Linked DNA regions of Homo sapiens: region 2 is linked to region 1. Evidence: fine-mapped expression QTL. A gene starts in region 1. The other region holds a variant in brackets. All regions are shown on one strand. Distances are from middle to middle.

Region 1 (5,377 bases):
GGAAACAGCCACCTAAAGTCCAGGTCCTAATCTCTGGAAACTGTAAATGTTTCTCTATTTGGAAAAATGGTGTTTTTTTTTTTTTTTCCCCCTAGATGTGATTAAGTTAAAAATCTTGGAATGGGAGTTTATCCTGTATTATCTGGGTTGGGGGGGGCGCGGGGGGGGTCCTAAATGCAATTATAAATGTCCTTATAAGAGAAAAGCAGAAGGAGATGTGACACATCCACAGAGAAGGCGATATGAAGGCACGGGCAGATACTGGAGTGATACAACCATAAGCCAAGGAATGCCAGCAGTCAGGAGAATCTAGAGAGGCAAGGAACGGATTATCCCTTAGAGCCTTTGGAGTGGGTGTGGCCCTGTCAATAACTTAATTTTAGCCCAGTGAAATTGATTTCAGGCTCCTGACCTCCCAAACTGCGAGAGAATAAATTTCTGTTGCTTTAAGCCACTTGGTTTGTGGTAATTTGTTGCAGGAATCACAGGAAACGAATACAGTGCTCCTGTGTTGTTATCCAGGTCTCAGCTTACTGTCATCTCCTTTCCCTTCCATTTGGAAGCCCCAAGAAGAGTTTCTTTTTTTTTTTTTTTTTTGAGACAGAGTATCGCTCTGTCTCCCAGGCTGGAGTGCAGTGGCCTGATCTTGATCTTGGCTCACTACAACCTCCACCTCCCGGGTTCAAGCGATTCTCCTGCCTCAGCCTCCTGAGTAGCTGGGACTACAGGCGTCTGCCACCACTCCCGGCCAATTTTTGTATTTTTAGTAGAGACAGGGTTTCACCATATTGGCCAGGTTGGTCTTGAACTCCTGACCTCGTGATCCGCCCGCCTTGGCCTCCCAAAGTGCTGGGATTACAGGCGTGAGCCACTGCACCCGGCCAAGAAGAGTTTCTAAAAACATCCCAGGCTGGGTACAGTGGCTTATGCCTGTAATCCCAGCACTTTGGGAGGCCTGGCTGCACTCTGGCTCAACAAACTGAGCTATCACTTCCATCTGACTTTTTCAGCAAATAAGAGATAGCCAATCCTAGAATCATAGAAAGCTCGACCGAAAAGGATCTTAAAGATCCATTTGTTCAAACTCCTCATTATTTATAGACAAGGATGCTAGCCCCAGAGAAGGAGAGGGTCACATACACAGGTTATAGATGAGTGACAGAGTTGTAATTAACTGGATCCTAGATCTGACTTCAAATCCAGTGTTGGTTCTACCGCATGTCACACTGACCAAAGTCATGGGTGTTGCTGTGGTCTAAGGTGCTGACCAAATTTTAGAAACTTGGGAATAAGGGGAATGGAGAAATGGATCACAAACCTCCTGAAAGCTATAGTGCCCCAGGGTAGTCATTTGTCTTTTTTTTTTTTTTTTTTTTTTTTTTTTTGATATGGAGTTTTGCTGTTTTGCCCAGGCTGGAGTGGAGTGGCGCGATCCTCGCTCACTGCAACCTCCGCCTTCCGGTTTCAAGCGATTCTCCGGCCTCAGCCTTCCGAGTAGCCGGGATTTACAGGCACCCGCCACCACCCCTGGCTAATTTTTGTATTTTTAGTAAAGACGGGGTTTCACCATGTTGGCCAGGTTGGTCTCTATCTCTTAACCTCAGGTGATCCACGCACCTCAACCTCCCAAAGTGTTGGGATTACAGGCGTGAGCCACCGCGCCCAACCAGGGTATTCATTCTTACCCAAGACATTCTACAGGGCTGACAGGGGTAAAGCTTCCGGTTTGAGATGGAGACTGAAGGGACCATGATTGTGTAACCACATCCCAAATTGGGAGGAGAGAAGTGTCATGAATTCCTAGAACTGACGGGATTTCAGGAAACCTCAAGAGTGACAGCATCGGAAAATGCAAGAGGTTTTAAAAAAAAAAGAGTGGAAGTTTTGGACAAATAAATGTGAGTTGTGTCTTATACAATCAACAAGTAACTGGTTTGGGAAACTCAATATCCCTAAATAAGGGAGCAGACCACCCCTCATATTGTCTTATGCCCAATTTCTGCCTCAAAGAAAATGTAGGAGTTAAAAGAAAGACAGAAGTGAAATCAGTAGTCAGACAGCCCGGCGATGCATTCCAGGCCTGGTAATTAAAGATCGACCCCTCCTGACCTAACCGGTTATATTATCTATAGATTCCAGACATTGTATGGAAAAGCATTGTGAAAATCCCTGTCCTGTTCTGTTCCGTTCTGATTACCGGTGCACCGGTAATCAGTCACGTACCCCCTGCTTGCTCAATCAATCACGACCCTCTCACGCGGACCCCCTTAGAGTTGTAAGCTCTTAAAAGGGACAGGAATTGCTCACTCGGGGAGCTCCGTTTTTGAGAAGTGAGTCAGCTGACGCTCCCGGCCGAATAAAGCTCCTTCCTTCTTTAACCCGGTGTCTGAGGAGTTTTGTCTGCGGCTTGTCCTGCTAGGTAATAATGGTAAAGGCTGAACATTTCTCATGCTTACCCTGCCTTCATACTTAATAAGGTTGTTGAAAAAAATGAATGAGAGAATGCATTTTAAATGCTCCGTACAGTACTAGTACACAATAAGTGCTCAATACATGCTAGCTGTTATTATTAAAACATTAATTAATAACAGTAGTAACAACAGCCACTGACTTTAAGACACGTTGATCAGTGTTGCCGAAACCGTACATCCGAAGTTGCTCTTCGGCCGCGTTTCGCTGCCCATTGCATTCAGGGGCTTGTAGTCCGGAAGTGAGAGGCTGATTTCTCAGCGCGCAGGCGCAGTGGCGCGGATTCCCGGAAGAACCCGCAGCAGCTCCCAGGATGAACTGGTTGCAGTGGCTGCTGCTGCTGCGGGGGCGCTGAGAGGACACGAGCTCTATGCCTTTCCGGCTGCTCATCCCGCTCGGCCTCCTGTGCGCGCTGCTGCCTCAGCACCATGGTGCGCCAGGTCCCGACGGCTCCGCGCCAGATCCCGCCCACTACAGGTGAACTGTGACCCGCCCTTTCGCAGTTGGGGAATGGGAAGCGTGAACCCGGTCCTTTCCCTTTCCGTCCATCCCAGACCCCGACTTGCTCCGACACAGCCGCTAGGTCCCAGGGAGAAATCAGCTAGTGATTCCCACTTTCCGCCCTGTATCTTGTTCTTCCCCCGCTTGTTTTTGTGTTCTTGCCCCATGCCTGATTTCTCGTCCCCCACCCAGGGAGCGAGTCAAGGCCATGTTCTACCACGCCTACGACAGCTACCTGGAGAATGCCTTTCCCTTCGATGAGCTGCGACCTCTCACCTGTGACGGGCACGACACCTGGGGCAGGTAGTGCGAGCGGAGGGGCAAGGGGCGGCCAGGGTCTGACTCTCTGGGCCTCGGCGGGCGGGTCAGCTGGGGCTGGTGGCTTCATGGTCTCCTCACCGGCACCAGAAAGCTCCCAGCTGAGCTAGAGCCGCGCTCCCCGCAATTCTTACTATCACCTCCAGGATCCACTTAGCCTCTCGCAGTGAAAAAAAAAGTCCTGGATTAGCCGGGTGGGCTGGATCGCTGAGCTCAGCCCCAGCAGTAACAGGCATCAGCTGTGGGGACATAGGCAATTTCTGGAGTAACGAGATACCGTGGAAGGGCTCCAAGAATTAGAAAACCCACCCCTTTCATTATGTAGGTGGGCATTCAGATCCAGGAAGGAGTGTGACACTCCTAAAACTTAAGTCTTTGTAGTTGGTGTGCCCCGTGCCTGAAATACACTCCCCATTTTCCTCCCATCACTGGCTGCTGCTTGTCATTCAGATCTCAGCTCAGTATCTTAATACCCCTACGAGTTAGGTGCCATTATCCCTGTTTTACACACGAATGTGCTAAGGTCGGGAGAAATTAAACTCAAAACTTGTGATGGTTTTTATTTTTTTAAGTTGAAACAAAGTAAATACAAATGGCAAATTCAAGTGGTAAAAGATTATATACAATAAATATCTCCCATACCCTAGAATTCCAACTATTAACTTTCCTTTGTATCTGTCCAGAAATATTCTTGGTTTATACCATTATATATATAGATGTGTGTATGTGTATCTTTTTAAAATGAACTTCTTAAAGGCATAATTTACATATAATAAAATACACTCTTTTTTTTTTTTTTTTTTTTTTGAGATGGAGTTTCGCTCTTGTTACCCAGGCTGGAGTGCAATGGCGTGATCTTGGCTCACTTCAAACTCCGCCTCCTGGCTTCAAGCGATTCTCCTGCCTCAGCCTCCCAAGTAGTTGGGATTACAGGAGCCCACCACCACACCCGGCTAATTTTTTTGTGGAGACGGGGTTTTGTCATTTGGCCAGGCTGGTCTTGAACTCCTGACCTCAGGTGATCCACCCACCTAGGCCTCCCAAAGTGCTGGCGGATTACAGGCATGAGCCACTGTGCCCAGCCTACACTCGTTTGAAGTGACCACCATCACAGTCAAGATATGAAACACTTCTGTCACTTTAAAAAGTTCCCTTGTGGCCCTTTATAGTTCATCCCTGCACCACCACTGACCCTAACAATTGCTGTCTGCTTTCTGTCAGCATGTCTTTTTGAAACAGATGGAAACATACTAAACCACCCTGACTTTTTCATTAAAAACAATTCGAATGTCTTTCCATCAGCACATAGAAGTCTTGATAACAATCTTTTTGATAACTCATAGTTTTGCACTGTTTATAACACAGTTTAATCACCCATTAATGGGTGGACAGTTGGGTTCTTTCCAGCCTCTTGCTGTTCTAAGCAATACTGCCATGAACACTCTCAAACAGCTGTTCACTGTGAATTAAATTCCTAGAGGTGAAAATTGGTGAAAGGCCTGTGCTTTAAGCTGCAATCTTATACTGCCTCCCAATGGTAGAGGAGAATGCCAGACTATAGGTGATGTATTTAATTACAATTGAGCTACATCAGCCAACCCTCCCAGGTGCATTAAGTGGGTCAGAGAATACCTGCGATTTTCACTGTGGTTTCTCTGTTGTGACTGTAAGTGGGACAGGCAGAGGCATTACTTTGCCTCATTTAGTTTTAGGGGGATCAGATCTAGGGCAGCCATAATATCTGGTATTTGATTTTCTTACTAAGCGGCTGGGATTTCTGTCCTTTTGCAGTTTTTCTCTGACTCTAATTGATGCACTGGACACCTTGCTGGTAAGTATCTCGTCTGTTTCTTTTCCTTTCCACTGTTACATAACCAACATCCTTCCTCTTTTGGCAGCGTGACTGTGGGTGAAAAATGAATTCCTCTCCTAGGCCTTTTATTTGCATCTCATGATTCTGAAGCGTCCGGCTGTGGTTGCCTAGCTAGATAGGGGAAAAACGAACTACAACTTATGCAGATTCATTTATTTAGCAAACATTTATAGAGGACCTGTTATGTACGGAGAATTGTGATAGGCTTGCATAGCT
Region 2 (5,377 bases), 130 kb after region 1:
AGAGGCCTCCTCGTTAATGAGCAGTTGGGCCAAGTTCTCAGACCAATCTTGGCCAAATTGAAATCTCAGGACTGGAAAGGCTCCCCATGTGCTGTCAAGTTTCATCCCTCTGGTGCTAATGAAAACCATCCATATAGCAGTCGTTTCTTTTAGTGCCCCCTGAGTAGCTTCTACAGTACCTCACTGAGCCTTTTCAACAGCTCCATCGTCCCCCATCGCCTTTTCTATCAAGGGACTTGGGTTCAAAGAATGTTGCCCAGGGTCACAGAGCTATCTTGTGAACCCAGGGCTGTCTGACTGCAGAGATAAATGCCTGAGCCTGTACCCGCTGCCTCCTCTGGTAGAGTGGCACTTCATCTCGCCCACCTGCCTACCATCCTGCTATAGAGCAGGCTACGGGGCTGGACCTGAGAGTAGGAATAATGCATTCTACAAGTAAAATTTGTTTTACAAATTTTACACATGAAGAAGCTGCTATTTTCTTTCTTTCTTTTTTTTTTTTTTTTTTTTTTCTTTTTTTGAGACAGTCTTGCTCTGCCACCCAGGCTGGAGTGGTGCAGTGACATGACCTCGGCTCACTGCAACCTCTGCCTCCCCAGCTCAAGCGATCCTCTTGCCTCAGCCCTCCAAGTAGCTGGGGTTATAGGCACACACCACCACACCCAGCTAATTTTTGTATTTTTAGTAGAGACAGGGTTTCATCATGTTGGCCAGGATGGTCTGAAACTCCTGGCCTCAAGTGATCCGCCCGCCTTGGCCTCCCAAAGTGCTGGGATTAACAGGCGTGAGCCACCATGCCCGGCCGAGAAGCTGGTATTGTTAAGAGAAAAGGGAAATGATGTAGTAGAAACCTCAAACCTAAGCACTGGCCTGAACTTAGGAGACCCAGGGTCAGGTCCAAGTCTGCCTTAGAAGGCCCCTCTCTTCCCAGCTGTGTGACTCACCCCTAATCTCTTAAGCTTGGGTTTCTAGTCTGTGCAGTGAGGCAATTGCACTGGATGAATTTTTTTGGGCCATTGTTGGAACATTTTATAGCTGTGTGACCTGGGCCTGGCTTAGGGCCCTTTGGAGTGAGACAGGAAGGCACATGGCTTGGTGAACACCATAGATGTCAGCCGTACCTCCCCACCCCCAGTTAAGCAGGGCAAGGTAGATCCAGGCTGGGTTTTAGTAAAGGCCTGAGTGGCAGAACAGGTGTCATTTTACATCAGCCTCAGTCTAACAGATTCTGGGCTGCTTATGAGTCTTAACACTGGCCAGAGGCTGTGATTTCTAGTAGGAAGAGAATAGTCACCTCTATTACTTTCAGTGGCAAAAATCGCAATTACTTTTACACAACCTAATATGTTGAAGGAAGAGGTCCATGGAAATGGAGGCTGCCAGGGATGTCTTTGTCAGCTTCTGGTCTCCCAAGATAAATGCATACCTGTAGTGGGCTAGAAAGGGGCAGACTTAAGATCTGAACACCTGAGTTAGGTGCCGTTGCAATCACTGACCTTACCCAGGCTGGTCTTGCTGAACTTCTCCCCCTTGTAAAATAGCAATAAGCGAGCACTGGTGCTGTGTGCAGAGCTTTACATCTGCTTTCTGACTCGATCCTTACAACAGCCCCGAGAAGGGCTAGTAATAGCCTTATGTTATATAAACAAATTTTAACAGGGAAATCATTCCTGCAGTTCTGTTTTAAAAGATATAAATTAGTATAAGTGAAGCCTCTCTCCCCTCTGATCCTTGACATTCTATTCTAATGGTTCCATGAAGCAGCTAATTTTACCAGTTATTAGTGTATCCTTCTAGAGACATTTTTATGCTTACAAAGGCGAATTGTATTCCTCTTTTTTTACACAATCAGTAATACAGCATGAGCACACTTGCTTTCCCAGTATTATCTCTCGGCAATTGTTCAGTTCACGACATATAAAATACCTTGATTCTTTTTTACTGGTGCCTTGTATCCCATTGAGTGGCATACCATAATTTATTTTGGGGTATTACAAATAATGCTATAGTGAGTAGTGTTGTAAATATATATCATTTAGTGTTTATATGGATCTGTCTGAGTGTAAATTCCTAAAGTGGAATTGCTGGTTTAAAGGGATTATGGATTTGCAATTTTAGAGCTACTGCCAAACACTCTTCCCTGTGCAGGTCATACCAGTGTGCCCTCCCACCAACAGCGTGTGAATGTACCCAATGCCCAAGTCACCAACACGGTCTTATAAAGCTTTGTCATCTTTCCCAGTCTGAAAAAGTGAAAAATCAGAGACATTTGTAGGACTCCTTATAGAGGAATTTCTTTGCCTGTGGCATGAATTGCCAATGTATGTTCTCTGTTTGTCATATTTGGCTTGTGACTTTGCTTGAGTTTTGCCATACAGAATTTTTAAAGGTTTAGGTGGTTGATGTCAACAAGCTTCTTTTTGAGCTTCTAGGTTTATTATAATCCTTCAGAAAGGCTTTTCCAACTCTTAGATCATTTTTTTTTCTTTGCAGAGATTTTTCTAGATCTTAGAGTTTTTTAATAATTGTATCTTACTTTCAGCTGAAATTTATCCTAGTGCAAAGCATGAGGAACATTTTGATGTTAATACGAGGAGACAAATCTTAAGGAATTTGTTTAAGGTTACAAAGTTTGCACATGGTAAAGCTAAGAGTCAAACCCAGGACTCTTGCATCCCAAAGGACTCTTGAATCATATGCAGGACTCTCTGAATCCCAAACTCATGCTTCTGTGATAGGAACTACCGGACATTATGCCTTGTAGGATTATTGTGAGCATTAATGAGCAAAGTTAGAAAGTGGGTTTGTGTGTGCTGGGCATAGGGGATACACGGATGTTTTCTTCAGACCCTGGCCCTCCTTACTGACAGTACTGAT[A/G]CTTGTCCTGAATATCATTATCGTGTGTACTGAGCACGAGGTTTTGCTAGATTTTTCAAGCACATTTGTCTTAATACTTTTTCCTTCCTATCCCATTCAGGTTCACAGAATGATTGCAGAGTTCAAGCTGATCCCTGGACTTAATAATTTGTTTGACAAACTGATTTGGAGGAAGCATTCAGCATCTGCCCTTGTCCTCCATGGTCACAACCAGAACTGTGACTGTAGCCCGGTAAGCAGGAGACCCCCGGGGACAGATGGGGCCTCACTGGCTTGGAGTAGTTGTTTCAAGACCTGCTGCTGACCCTTTGACCTTTTTTCCTTTGGGAGTAGAGCAGAAACTAAAATCATATCTTATAGTCCCCTAATTGGAAGCTACCTTGGAGTAGGATCTGAGTGAACTCCACTCCCCACCCCAACCTATGCAGAAATCCCTTTTAAGATCTTCCTAGGCTGGGCACAGTGACTCAGGCCTGTAATCCCAGCACTTTGGGAGGCCGAGCGGGCAGATCACTTGAGGTCAAGAGTTACAGACCAGCCTGGCCAACATGGTGAAACCCTGTCTCACTAGTGTGAGAGACACTTGCGTCTCTCACTAAAAATACAAAAATTGGCCAGGTATGGTGTTGGGTGCCTGTAATCCCAACTCTTCGGGAGGCTGAGGCACCAGAATTGCTTGAACCCAGGAGGCAGAGGTTGCAGTGAGCTGAGATCACGCCACTGGACTCCAGCCTGCGTAACAAAGTGAGACTGTGTCTCAAAAAAAAAAAAAAAAAAAGTTCCTGCCTGAGGCCCTCTAGCCAACTTCCCCTTGTAATCTCTGTGATAGGGATCTCATTTCACTCCAGGCAGGGGCTGCCCACTGCATGAGCTAGCAGCCTGCTTTTCCTTATTTGCTGTTTTATCCTATTGTAATTTTCATCCACCTATAGAACCGTGCTCCCGGGCGTGGTGGTCACACCCGTAATCCCAGCAGTTTGAAAGGCCAAGGCGGGCAGATCACTTGAGGTCAGGAGTTCGAGACCAGCCTGGCCAACATGGTGAAACCCCGTCTCTACTAAAAATACAAAAATTAGCCAGGCATGTTGGTGGGGCACCTGTAATCCCTGCTACTCAGGAGGCTGAGGTGGGAGAATCACTTGAACCCGGGAGGTAGAGGTTGCAGTGAACTAAGATCAAGCCACTGCACATCCGGCCTGGGTGACAGAGCAAAGACACTGTCTCATACAAAAAAAGGTGGCTTTGGTTTTTTGAGCCCAAGCACTCTCCTTTAGCTTGTGTCTCTCACAGTCCCCTTGAGAGAGCTCTGAACAGGACATTGGAAGGCTTGTTGGAAGAGCTTGAATGAATCACTGAATCTCTGAGCCTCTGTTTTCTTGCAAAAGAAGGATAATACTCTTTCCCCTATTGGCCCCCCGGCTAGTCGGCACCCTGCCTACCAGCATGAGAAGGAAAGTGCTCTGGGACCTAAAAGTGCCACCCAGCCATCGGCCTGGTGCCATGGGGCCCTCTTCTCTTCACTGCACTCTGGGGACTTCCCTCAGCGACCTGTCTTCTGCTTTATCATTTGAGTTTTTAATTTCAAGCAAATATATTTTGCATTTCTAGATGTTCTGTCTGGCTCAATTCGGAAACTGCTTAGCCATGATGTTAATATCTTTTTTCTGCTGCATATTCTGTTTTTAATCATTTTTAAAATACTTTCTTAAGGTCTCTTTCGATTGCTCATGGGGCACTAATGCTTGTGTTTGGGTCTTCAGACCTCAGGGTGGAGTGTTGCCTCGTGTTTTGTAATGTCTGTGGAGCGGCCACCAGAATTGCTTGAACCCAGGAGGCAGAGGTTGCAGTGAGCTGAGATCACGCCACTGCACTCCAGCCTGGGCAACAGAGTGAGACTGTGTCTCAAAAAAAAAAAAAAAAAAAAATTCTGCCTGAGGCCCTCTAGCCACTTCCCCTTGTAATCTCTGTGATGGGGATCTCATTTCACTCCAGGCAGGGAGGGGGCTGCCCACTGCATGAGCTAGCAGCCTGCTTTTCCTTATTTGCTGTTTTATCCTATTGTAATTTTCATCCACCTATAGAAACGTGCTCCCGGGCATGGTGGCTCACACCCGTAATCCCAGCACTTTGAGAGGCCAAGGCGGGCAGATCACTTGAGGTCAGTGGGGTTAGTTTCCCCCTTGGATACCTGTGTAGCCTCAGCCCTGGAGGCATTTCTACAGGGCACTTTTGCTTTTGTCTGGCAGCTGTCCCAGGGCCAGTTTTCTTATTTAATGTCTTGGCCCTACTGCCCCAGTCGTATGAGCCCAGGGTTTCTGCTGCTCTTGGGAGGGCCCCCTTCACCCACCAGCAGCACCATGGCAGAGCCAGGCTCCCTGGGCTGGTGGGTCAGGCCTTTCTAACCCTTCTTTCACCAAGTGTACATGCTCCCCAGGCTTTACTGGGACCTGACACCCTGTCTAGTCCCTGCAGGGCATTAAAACCCAAGCCTTAGTGTGAC

What was found.
Region 2: its variant is fine-mapped to the expression of EDEM2 in whole blood (TOPMed, PIP above 0.99).

Annotation. Positions count from the first base shown.
Region 1 is chr20:35,144,721-35,150,097 of GRCh38, reverse strand. EDEM2 (ER degradation enhancing alpha-mannosidase like protein 2) reads left to right here and starts at 2,762. Exons shown (of 11, transcript NM_018217.3): 1 at 2,762-2,946; 2 at 3,163-3,273; 3 at 5,080-5,119. The coding sequence starts at 2,840. It overlaps MMP24-AS1-EDEM2 (MMP24-AS1-EDEM2 readthrough), which reads left to right. Exons shown (of 15, transcript NM_001355008.2): 6 at 3,163-3,273; 7 at 5,080-5,119. The coding sequence starts at 3,179. RefSeq lists enhancers at 2,599-2,728, 2,977-3,580.
Region 2 is chr20:35,013,740-35,019,116 of GRCh38, reverse strand. It overlaps TRPC4AP (transient receptor potential cation channel subfamily C member 4 associated protein), which reads left to right. Exons shown (of 19, transcript NM_015638.3): 10 at 2,978-3,109. Among named protein-coding and RNA genes, the nearest start is that of MIR499B, 26 kb to the right of the region's middle. RefSeq lists a silencer at 824-1,024. The variant A/G (reference allele first, on the strand shown) is at 2,878.